Linked DNA regions of Homo sapiens: region 2 is reported to be linked to region 1. The links are microRNA targets in miRTarBase. Many come from high-throughput screens and were not tested one by one. Region 1 holds a microRNA gene; the other region holds the end of a gene's coding sequence.

Region 1 (5,075 bases):
ATTAGGATTTTTTAAACTTTCATAGCATTAACATGAAAGAAAAATTATTTGGAAAAAAAGACACCCAGCACAACTTGCTTAGAATATAGTTTCCCTAATTCATCGTGTAAGCAGTTCAAACAAGGCTCAAATTACCTAATCTAACAAAACAATGAAGAAAAAAAAAAGATTATGGGGCATTTCTGTATTCTCCACATCAAAAGCAAATATGAAATGATTCTTAGTATTTCACAGGAATATCTCATTTTTCCCCTTTTAATTATTGTTATCTGCACAAATATGTGGTTTCCTCATTTCGTTTTTTAAATATGTCAATTCTAACCAAAACTCCTCATCCACAAATATCTTTGAACAGTCAGAACTGATAAATCACAAAAAAATGAAGCTTAAATCTTGTTTATCAGGTGAATTACACATCACCAAAATATATTGCTGCCTATCAAAATCTTAAAAAAATTTTAAGGTTTTATTAAGCTGCGTGTGCTGACAGAATTCAAATTTTTCCATAGTTGAATTTGTAAAGGGAAGACTTTTATAAAGGCTTTACAAATCCAAAAATTGGTAAAATTCGTGGTTTACTTATTTTTCAATGGCCTTATCCTCAGCCTCCAATTAAAGTCTATGATATATGTAATGTGCATATTCTAAGACTATCATCAAAGATCTGAATTTTGTAAATGCCCAATACTGGACACCAGCGAACTGTTTTTCTGTATTTGATCCTCTTATTAATAACTATGATTCATAATAGTTTCAGCTTTAAATACTGAACCTTACATTTGCTTGTAATAGAGCTCAGTTATTATTTGTGGCAAGAATTTTTGTGACTGTACTGCTCAGCACTTCTATTTACATCAGCAGTGCTAAATGCCCAATGGTGAGAGGGGAGCCAATCAGATGGCAGATTAGATGTCAACTCAGAGGCAGCTGTCTGGAGACTATTACAGCCAGTTTACCTCCACAATTCAAATTCCAAACCTTGCAAAGGAGATCAAGTCAGTCTTTAGGCTCAGCCTACTAGCAAGAAACAGCAAGAGTGCAGGACACTTCCTAACAGCGCTGTAGGACTCGGGTGACAGCAAAATAAAGAAAATCCAAATAAATACGATCCCAAAAGATCAATTTTCACTGGTCTGCTATCTTACTGGATTTGCTGAATAAAATGCATGCCTAATCCATGATCAAAATAAGTTCAATTGATCCGGAACGTGCTCCTTTCACATAGCCTGCCTGTTGAAGGTGACTCCCTGCAAGCAGCCCGTAAGCCCAATAATGGATTTCCCTGGCTATTCTAAGGAACGAATCGATGTATTTTACAATATTGCACCTCCATGTCGTTGTAAATTTTGTTATTATTCCTACCAGCAAACGTTCGAGCTCGAAGCCCGCACCGAGTGTCTCTGAATGGCTCTCCCTAAGTAGGAAAAACCCACTCGCTTGTCACAAAGCTAACCTATTTTCCCTGCCTGGACCTCGGAAGCCAAGAGGGAACGTGCTGTGGCTAAAGGTGTGAGAAAGTTCCTCATTCTTTCCCCCGTTAAAGCACATTGTGGGCGCTCCCAGAACCGATCGGGTGGCTCTTCGCCCCAGCCGTCCTGGCCGGGAGAGCCTATTTGTTACAAAAGCACCCGAACGGTCCCCGCCGCCCCAAACGGCGACCGCGCGGGTGGCGCCTCGGGATCTCGCTTCGCGTTCCCGGGCCTGGGGGAGGGGGGGGACGCGGGTGCGGGCCGGCGGGGTAGAAGCCACCCGGCCCGGCCCGGCCCGGCGAAGCCCTCCCAGGCCTGGACAGCGCGCCGGCCCCCGGGGCGCCCCGACCGCGGCGGGAGGCGGCCGCCCGTCAAGATGGCTTTGGGCGCCGCGCCCCCGCCGCCCCCGCGGGAAGACGGGGAAAAGTACGCGGCAAAGAAAGAAACTCAGGCTCGCGGCGCGGCGAGGCCGCCGGGCGGAAGCAGGCCCGGCTGGCGCGAGGGTTACCTGGGATCTGCCCATGGTCGGTCCGGGGGTGCCGGGGCTCATCGCCGGGTGACTCCTTTGTTGCGCGGCCGCCCAGGCCGGGCTGGCAGCGGCGTACTGGGCGCCCATGTCCTTGCCCAAGCCCATGCCCGCGGCCGCCTGCTGGCCGCCCGCCGCCGCCCCCGCCGCCGCCGCCTGGGACTGGGGCTGCGACGGCGGCGGCGGCGGCGCGCTGGGGCTGCTGTACTCGGGGTAGCTGCCGCCGTAGCTCCGCATCATGGGGCTGGGCGAGGTGAGCAGCTGATTGAGGGTCGGGGTGGCCCCCGACGGGTGCTGGTTCTGGCCGGCGAAGCGCTGGAAGCCCCCCGCCGCCGAGCCGGCGGCCGCCTTGCTGAGGCTCGCGGCCCCGCCGCCCCCGGGGCCCATCATCATGCCGCCGCCCTGCTGCCGGGGGGAGCTCAGCACCCCGTACCCCGCGGACGAGCCCCCATAGCCGCCGCCGCCGCCGCCTCCTGCTGCTGCCGCCGCCGCCGCGGCCGCCGCCGCCACAGCTCCCGCTCCTGCTCCTCCTGCTCCTGCTCCTCCTCCTCCTCCTCCTCCTCCGCTGCCTCCTCCTCCTCCGCCGCCGCCGCCGCCGCCGCCGCCCGCGCCGGGCCGGCTGTAGCCCGGATAATGGTTGCACTGGCTGTTGGGGTACCCTTCGTGGGAGTTCTGCAGGGGGTCCATGCTGCCGGGGGCCCCGGCGGCGGCGGCGGAGGCGGAGTGCATCATCCCCATCCCGGGGCTTTGTTGTCCGCCATGTTGATCAAAGCAAGGCCCAGCGCGGCCGCCGGGGCCGCCGCTCGCAGGGGCAGCGCTGCCATAGTAATTATTAAACTCCGGGACGGCCGCCGGGCCGCCGCCGCCCCCGGGCACGGCGACCGGCGGCTGCTGCGTGCCCAGGGCGCCCAAGCCCGGGTGCTCGTAGCGGCCGCCCGCCGGCTCCCCCATCTTGGGCGGCGCGTCGTCCTCGTCGCCCGGCTTGCTCAGCAGCGGCGGGCCCGGGGGGTCGGCCTGGCCGCCCGCAGCACTGTCCTTGGCGCCTCCATGTTGCGGCTGCTCCATGTCGGGGCCGGGCTGAGGCGCGCCGCCGCCCGCGCCGCCCAAGCTGTTGTTGTTGGAAATGGGATGTTGCTGTTGCTGCTGCTGCTGCTGCTGCTGTTGCTGCTGCTGCTGCTGCTGCTGGAACTGGTTTAGCTGCTGCTGTAGTGCGTGGTGGTGGTGGAGGTGGTGGGCATGGTGGTGGTGGTGGTGGGCATGGTGGTGGTGGTGGTGCTGCTGGTGGGGCGGCGCGGCGGGGGCTTCGCCAACGGTTTTCAGTTTGTGGTTGGGGAGCAGCCCCGTCTCCATGGCCGAGCCCGGGCCCGACGAGGAGGAAGAGGATGCCGCCGCTGCCGCCGCGGAGGAGGAGGAGGAGGAGGACAGCGCGGCGGCGCTTCCACCCTCCTTGAGAGCCGCCTCGGAGCCGCCGCTCTTGGCGCTGTGGGTGCCGGCGGCGGCCGCGGCGCCCGCGTTATGGGCCATGTTGAGTTCGTGACGGGGGAGCAGGGGGTGGTGGTGCACACTGTTCAGGCCGCCGCCGCCGTCGCCGCCGCCCCCCAGCATGGGTCCCGGTGCCGCCGCCGCCGCCGCCGCGCCGCGCGCCCCCGCCTCCAGGTCCCGGGCTCCGGGCGCCGGCCGCGGCCCGGGGGGCGCCCGCCGTTCGCCGCTGCCTGCCCGCGCCCGCGCCCGCGCCGCCGCCGCCGCCGCCGCCGCTGCTGCCCGCGCGGCCATGATCGCCGCGGCGTGGCGAGGCCGGGCGGGGGGCGGGGGGAGACAATAACCCCCACTTTTCAGGCCGCGGCCCCTCCTGTGCGCATCCACGCGGCCCGCCGGGAAGCCGCGACCCCCTCCCCCTCCGCAGGCCCCGCCGGAGCGCCGGGCCGGGCACGCCTTACGCTCTGGGCCTGCTCCTGCTGTGTGCTTTCATGGTGAAAGTTTTTAGTTCAGGTTTAAATGAAACTTTTCTCTTTTCCTCTCTAGCCCGGATATGGGTAAATACACGACTAGCTGAGCCTATCGGGCCCAGCATGGCTTGAGAGGCAGCGGGCGAGCTCGAGCAACTATTATCCACTTCGCTCGCATTACTCCCGCGCACTCGCAAAACGCGGACTGGACTCGTCCCCGGGCCGCCGCCGCCCGCCCCGGCGCAGCCTCGCGGGACCCAGCCGGGCTTGGGCTAAGGCTGGGGCCGGGGCCGGGGCCGGGGCGGCTCGGCGGCCGCTCGGAGCGCGGCGGCGTGGGGCGGCCGGAACCTGCACTTTCCCCCCGGGCCGCTGTCTCCTTGCCAACCGGGCGTTCGCATGTTTGTTTTCACGTCTAAAAGGAACGATACAAAGGTGGAAAACGAGTCTGACGAGCAGACAAAAGAGGGAGAAGGGCTGGGAAACAAAGTTGTCTATTGGCCTCAGAGGTTACAAGGAGCCGACGGAGAAAGAAAATATTTAGGCAATCTGCAAAAGCACGGTCTCTCCCAGGAGTTATGTAATTTTCAGAACGTTCGCCTCTGCCTTGATTTCGGGCCATCGGCGTAATTCCCACAACTTCTTCCAACTGCAAAATTAGGAAAGATTTGAAATGAAGGTTAGCCCCGGTCAGAGAGCCCTATGGCCTGTACCCAGTAGGTACTCAATAAATGCTTATGACTGACTGCACCCGCCCCAAAGAGAATGTTTACATAACTCTTTTTGAAGGCACCTTAAACACGTATGTAGGTTTGTCAGTGTATTTCCAAAGGAATATGTCCACGTATTCCCAAAGGAGCATTTTTCTTACATGCACTTGGATGTCCTCTGTGGAGTATGTACAGTGGTGTTTTCTGCGCCAACTTTCACATGAACATTTAACTCTTGGTGCCAGAACAGCGACAGCTATGGGTTAGCTCGTATCTTCATAAATCTATATGACACCTTTCATCATGTTTCAGAGCTTCGTGTGCACAGTTAACCCTCTCGATATACATTCATTTCAAAGAGATGTGGAACGAAACTAAAATATTATAGACATTATATTTAATAAATATAACTTCAATAATAATATAA
Region 2 (5,066 bases), not on the chromosome of region 1:
TTGTATCATTTGAAATCAGACCCCAAACTCAACAGCTTTAGAACCTAATTAAGAAAACATAATTTGTATTGCATCTTGTGTTTTTGAAATTATGCTTTTCCTTATCAGAGCTAGGTAATATAGACTGAAAACATTTCACATTTAGTTCTTTATAACTACCCTGGCATATATCATAACTGATGCAACTAAATTATAAATAAGCAAGAAAATCACATGGCTAAACATATTTTAAACGATATATACAATATAGAACAATATTCATCATCTTCTGGAGAGCACATATAAAGTTTCTGGCTTAAATAATTTCCCCAGCTGTATCGACATAGGCTACATGAGTAAAATAGTGAAATATATTTAAGCCTATTACTAGACATATATGCTTTTATAGAATAGGTAAACTTTGTGGCAGTTACCAGATTAACAAAACATATTTGTCATTGGCATTACTATTGTATTTAAAGAATTTAAATTGTAAACAATTCTATTTTAACAGATATTAGGGTATAATGACATAATGTTAAGACATTTGAAAATGTTTCTATATTTGGGTCCAGCTCAAAAAAACTAATTTTCTCATAGTCTTCATTTTTTTATTAGCTTTGCCTAAATATTATGTTTTTTTTTATTGCAGTGATTCTCTTTCTGAAAGTTTAAAAATACTTTGCAAATTTATAATCTCATCTTCTCTTTCCTCAACTCTCACTGTGCAGGGCCCTGTGTTTTTCCTTGAAGACGGGAAATCTGCTATCTCCTTGAATGATGCTTTGATGTGGGCAAAGGTGAATCCATTCTCACCTTTAGGGACTGGAATACGACTCAATCCATTCTGATAGAAGATTTTTGTCCATGCTTGATTTTTTTTTTTAAAGAAAAACTTTCATGGGTTAGCATTACCTTAATCTTTGTTGCTCAAGTGCCAGAGGTTGGGAGAAGGATTGCAGGTTGGGAGAGGTGGGAAATAGCAGTGAATTTTAGTCATTAACTTCAAAATATATATATATATATAATTTAAAGGAAAAATAGGTGCCTCCTTTATAAACAGTAATAGCTACGTTTGGGAAGGAGGAAACATTTAAATTATAAAGGACTGAATAATCTAAAAAGCATATAAAAGTTTCACACAGCATAAAAGATACCAAAATATCATATGGTTGAAATATTGAAACATATTAAATTGTGCAACACCTAGAATAGTGCTAGACATACAGTAAGTACTTAATGGATATTTGAATGATTGAATATCTTGAAATGTTGAAATGTAAGGTGTGCACAGTGATCTTCAACTTAACAAACACTTACGTTCTCCTTTATAAAATGCATAGTAAACCACTAACGTTAGCTGTTTTAATAAAAGTTTTCAGTTATAAGTTTAGTAAATATTAATAAATGGATACACATTCAAAATACTTTTAAAAAAAAGAAAATGTTACCAGTTTTTTTATCTGAAGTTTAACTGTCCCATTGTAAAGGTGTAAGTTATATAGGCTTGAAAAAAATTGGCGGGTAAAAATCACAAAATGCAGTCGAATATATATATGAAAACTTGCATTAGGTGATAAAGTGACTATTTTAAGAGATTCAGCATGCATGGATATTAGTTTTGATTAATGTGTACAATAATTTACACAGTATACTCTAGTCAATTTATGTTAACTTTATTTAAAACACAATTTATTTGGCCGGGCACGGTGGCTCACACCTGTAATCTCAGCACTTTGGCAGGCCAAGGCAGGTGGATCACCTGAGGTCAGGAGTTCATGACCAGCCTGGCCAGCATGGTAAAACCCTGTCTCCACTAAAAATACAAAAATTAGCCAGGCATGGTGGCGGGCACCTGTAATCCCAGTTACTTGGGAAGCTGAGGCAGGAGAATCCCTTGAACCTGGGAGGCAGAGGTTCCAGTGAGCCAAGATCGCACCACTGCACTCCAGCCTGGGCAACAAAGAGCGAAACTCTGTCTCAAAAAACAAACCAACAAAAACCACAATTGATTTGATGAAAATTAGTTTTAAGTAAATGTTTGTAAATAGATATTGGTTGAATTTTTGGATATATTATGTTGATTTAACTTTTAAAATGTTGTTTAAAAGTGTGAAGCTATGAAAAGCCTGATAATGTGACTACAGATATTTCAGTTGGACTAGAATTCTGACTTTGAAACTTATTAAATTAATGCATACTGGAAGTACTTTGATACTCAAGTTGTTTCACAAGATTTATAATATAGATGGTTTTGTTTGACTAAAGAATAATCTCATATAACTAGAATACTTGTGGCTTTTATTATCTTTAAACTTGTTGCATTTAAAATATTTTTAAAACCTTCTTAACAAAACTTCTTAAAACTGGAAAAAATATATATTATGTATCTATGTATCATATTTATCACATGACCACTTTTGATTCCTTAAAAAGACATTACAGGCTTAAATTCCATTTTATTAAAAAAAAAAAATTGCCTGTAATCCCAGCACTTCAGGAGGCCGAGATGGGCAGATCTTGAGGTCGGTAGATGGAGACCATCCTGGCCAACATGGTGAAACCCTGTCTCTACTAAAAATACAAAAATTAGCTGGGTGTGGTGGTGTGTACCTGTAGTCCCAGCTACCCAGGAAGCTAAGGCAGGAGAATCGCTTGAATCCAGGAGGCGGAGGTTGCAGTGAGCTGAGATCGCACTACTGCACTCCAGCCTGGGCGACAGAGCAAGACCACCATCTCCAAAAATTATATATATAAAAATAATTAATATTATAGAAGAGAATATACACAACTCAGAGATGCAATGGATAATATAAAAAGAGTACCTGAGATGTATTTTTTTAAACTCTTAGAGATATCTGTAACTCAAATTTTTCTTAGGTGAGGAGGATTATTAACTGGCACATATGTACTAAAAACCCCTCACTTAAAAATGGCAGTCTCAATCCTACTGTCATTCTTTTTATTTTAAAATAAATAAATAAGCCTATCTTTTTGTGCTTACATACTTAAAAGGATATCATTAAGTATATAAACAATCATTACTTCTGTATTTTTAATGAATGCAGGAAAATAATATTTTTATGTATAAAAGATGAAGAAAAAATTTTGCAAGTCTTTAAGCACATAAATACAACAGAATAGCCACCCAATTTCTGTCTGAAATCTAAATTGGATGGATTTGACCATCATTCTATTATCTTTGATTTCTACAATGTCTATATCTTATTACCTATAACTATTAATTTTTCATAGAATTATAAATGTCATTTGACTATGTCAATCTGTATATATTGTACCTTAATATGAAAAACAAATTTTTTAATTCATAAAAGTATTTTTATTAGATTTCATATGCATGAAACCCAAGCAAATTATATGAATTTATTTTACTATTTGAAAATGTTCATATTACCAATAATGTGGACAAATTACTTTGCAGGTTTAAATATGCCTCTGTAAAGGAAGAGTCTCATTAGACAATGATTTTTAAAGCATTGGAAAAATATTTTGCCTGTAAAAGTTAGTAACTAGGTGGTTCACAAAATTACAACATCAAAATAGTTACATCTTGTGAAAATATATGATTTTTATGTCAATCAAGACAAATGAAATATATATGTATGTGTATATATATACATGTATGTATGAAATATATATATGTGCGTGTGTGTGTGTATATATATATATATATATATATATTTCTATGAAATTGTCCAGATGTGTTCAGGAACATGATTGCATTAGAGCAATGACTGTATTTTGTTGTCCTTATAACATTTATATTATTTCAGTTTTAAGTCAAAAGGTATTCTGAATATAATAAAAGCCTCACAAATTATTTGTAAAATTTAGTAGTTCATATTTAGTATATCAGTAATATAGAAGACATCTTTATAGTCAACTCTTAATTAATGCTTATTGTACCAAATCTTTGAGATATTTGTACATAAATGAAATATGTACTTTCATGCTAAAATTATATATCATGACTGTGCTATAATTTGGCATGTCATTATCTAGATTTATATGTATGTACGTATTTCAGGTCCTTGAAATTTTAATAAATATTACAGTTAAATCCTGATATGACATAGTTACCGGCTAAGATGAGTAGTTGTTTCTTTCCCGAGACACCATTGAAAGACAAGTGTTTCTCCATAAATGCTTGGATCAGAGTCATCAGAGGTGTGAAAGGGCTAAGCTGTCCAACTGAGTTGTTACCCTACTCAGTAACCTAGGAAAATCACTTCATTGAATTGTTCCAGAGGCTGATTCTTCACTATAGAAACACTGACTACAGTATACCCCAAAATTACTATAAAAATGGAGAAAGTGCTTACTCATTAATACAAATGCTATGTCATAGTAGCTTCTATTCCCATAAGCTACTCGGGAGGCTGAGGCAGGAGAATAGCGTGAACCCGGGAGGCGGAGCTTGCAGTGAGCTGAGATTGCGCCACTGCACTCCAGCCTGGGCAACAGAGCAAGACTAGGTCTCAAAAACCAAAAATAAAAACAAAACAAAACAAAAAAGAAAATGTTTTATTCCTATAGCAGCTGCTATAGCTCCTAGAAAATTTCATTGCTTCCTTCTGTCAAAGATTCTTTTTGAAGTAAATGGTCTAAGATATGCCTGTAGTGTTGGCTTCTGTTGCACAATTCATCCTCAAGAAACTCTTGAGGTTACCCACTTTGACCATCCTGTATCTTCATTTACATAATCACTATGTAATGAAGCCTACAGACTATTTCCTATTTTCCAGTCTCTATAGGTCCCTCAGGATTCTTGGGAACTTACCATAGTCGGGCCATGAGTGATGAGCTCTTTCAGGAGATTGAACACAGCACCAGGAGGACAAAGAAACTTATTATTTGACTCTACCCAAAATTAATCCTCTTCTCTGGATCTTTTTCATGGCTGAGCTTCAGAGACTTGTTTCTCAAACCTTTTCCAAAGGAACTATATAGGTTAAAAGTTATTCTCATAATTTTGTACTTTAGATTGTCCCATGAGAGTGCAAGACAACAGATACATTACTTATAGCTGATTAAGATATGCATTTGACCTAGATCTCTTACCTCAG

What was found. The annotated mature microRNA hsa-miR-4466 reads GGGUGCGGGCCGGCGGGG and lies in region 1 at 1,722-1,739, shown strand. An mRNA with a match to its seed (bases 2 to 7 or 8) in the 3' UTR can be bound and repressed. Matches are read on the target gene's strand: a 7mer-m8 pairs with bases 2 to 8, a 7mer-A1 pairs with bases 2 to 7 and ends in A, and an 8mer does both.
Region 2: the mRNA of WDR17 is a reported target of hsa-miR-4466. Seed matches in the 3' UTR shown: 7mer-A1 at 1,914-1,920.

The regions. Positions count from the first base shown.
Region 1 is chr6:156,776,374-156,781,448 of GRCh38, reverse strand. It overlaps MIR4466 (microRNA 4466), which reads left to right and starts at 1,718; the gene lies at 1,718-1,771. ARID1B (AT-rich interaction domain 1B) reads right to left here and starts at 4,071. Exons shown (of 20, transcript NM_001374828.1): 1 at 1,978-4,071. The coding sequence starts at 3,768. LOC115308161 (a long non-coding RNA gene) reads left to right here and starts at 2,931. Exons shown (of 2, transcript NR_163974.1): 1 at 2,931-3,203; 2 at 4,018-5,075. RefSeq lists silencers at 1,588-1,757, 1,788-2,477, 2,548-2,597, 2,818-3,047, 3,298-3,367 and 3 more and an enhancer at 2,319-2,854.
Region 2 is chr4:176,178,750-176,183,815 of GRCh38, forward strand. It overlaps WDR17 (WD repeat domain 17), which reads left to right. Exons shown (of 29, transcript NM_181265.4): 29 at 711-4,066. The coding sequence ends at 830. Among named protein-coding and RNA genes, the nearest start is that of SPATA4, 14 kb to the right of the region's middle.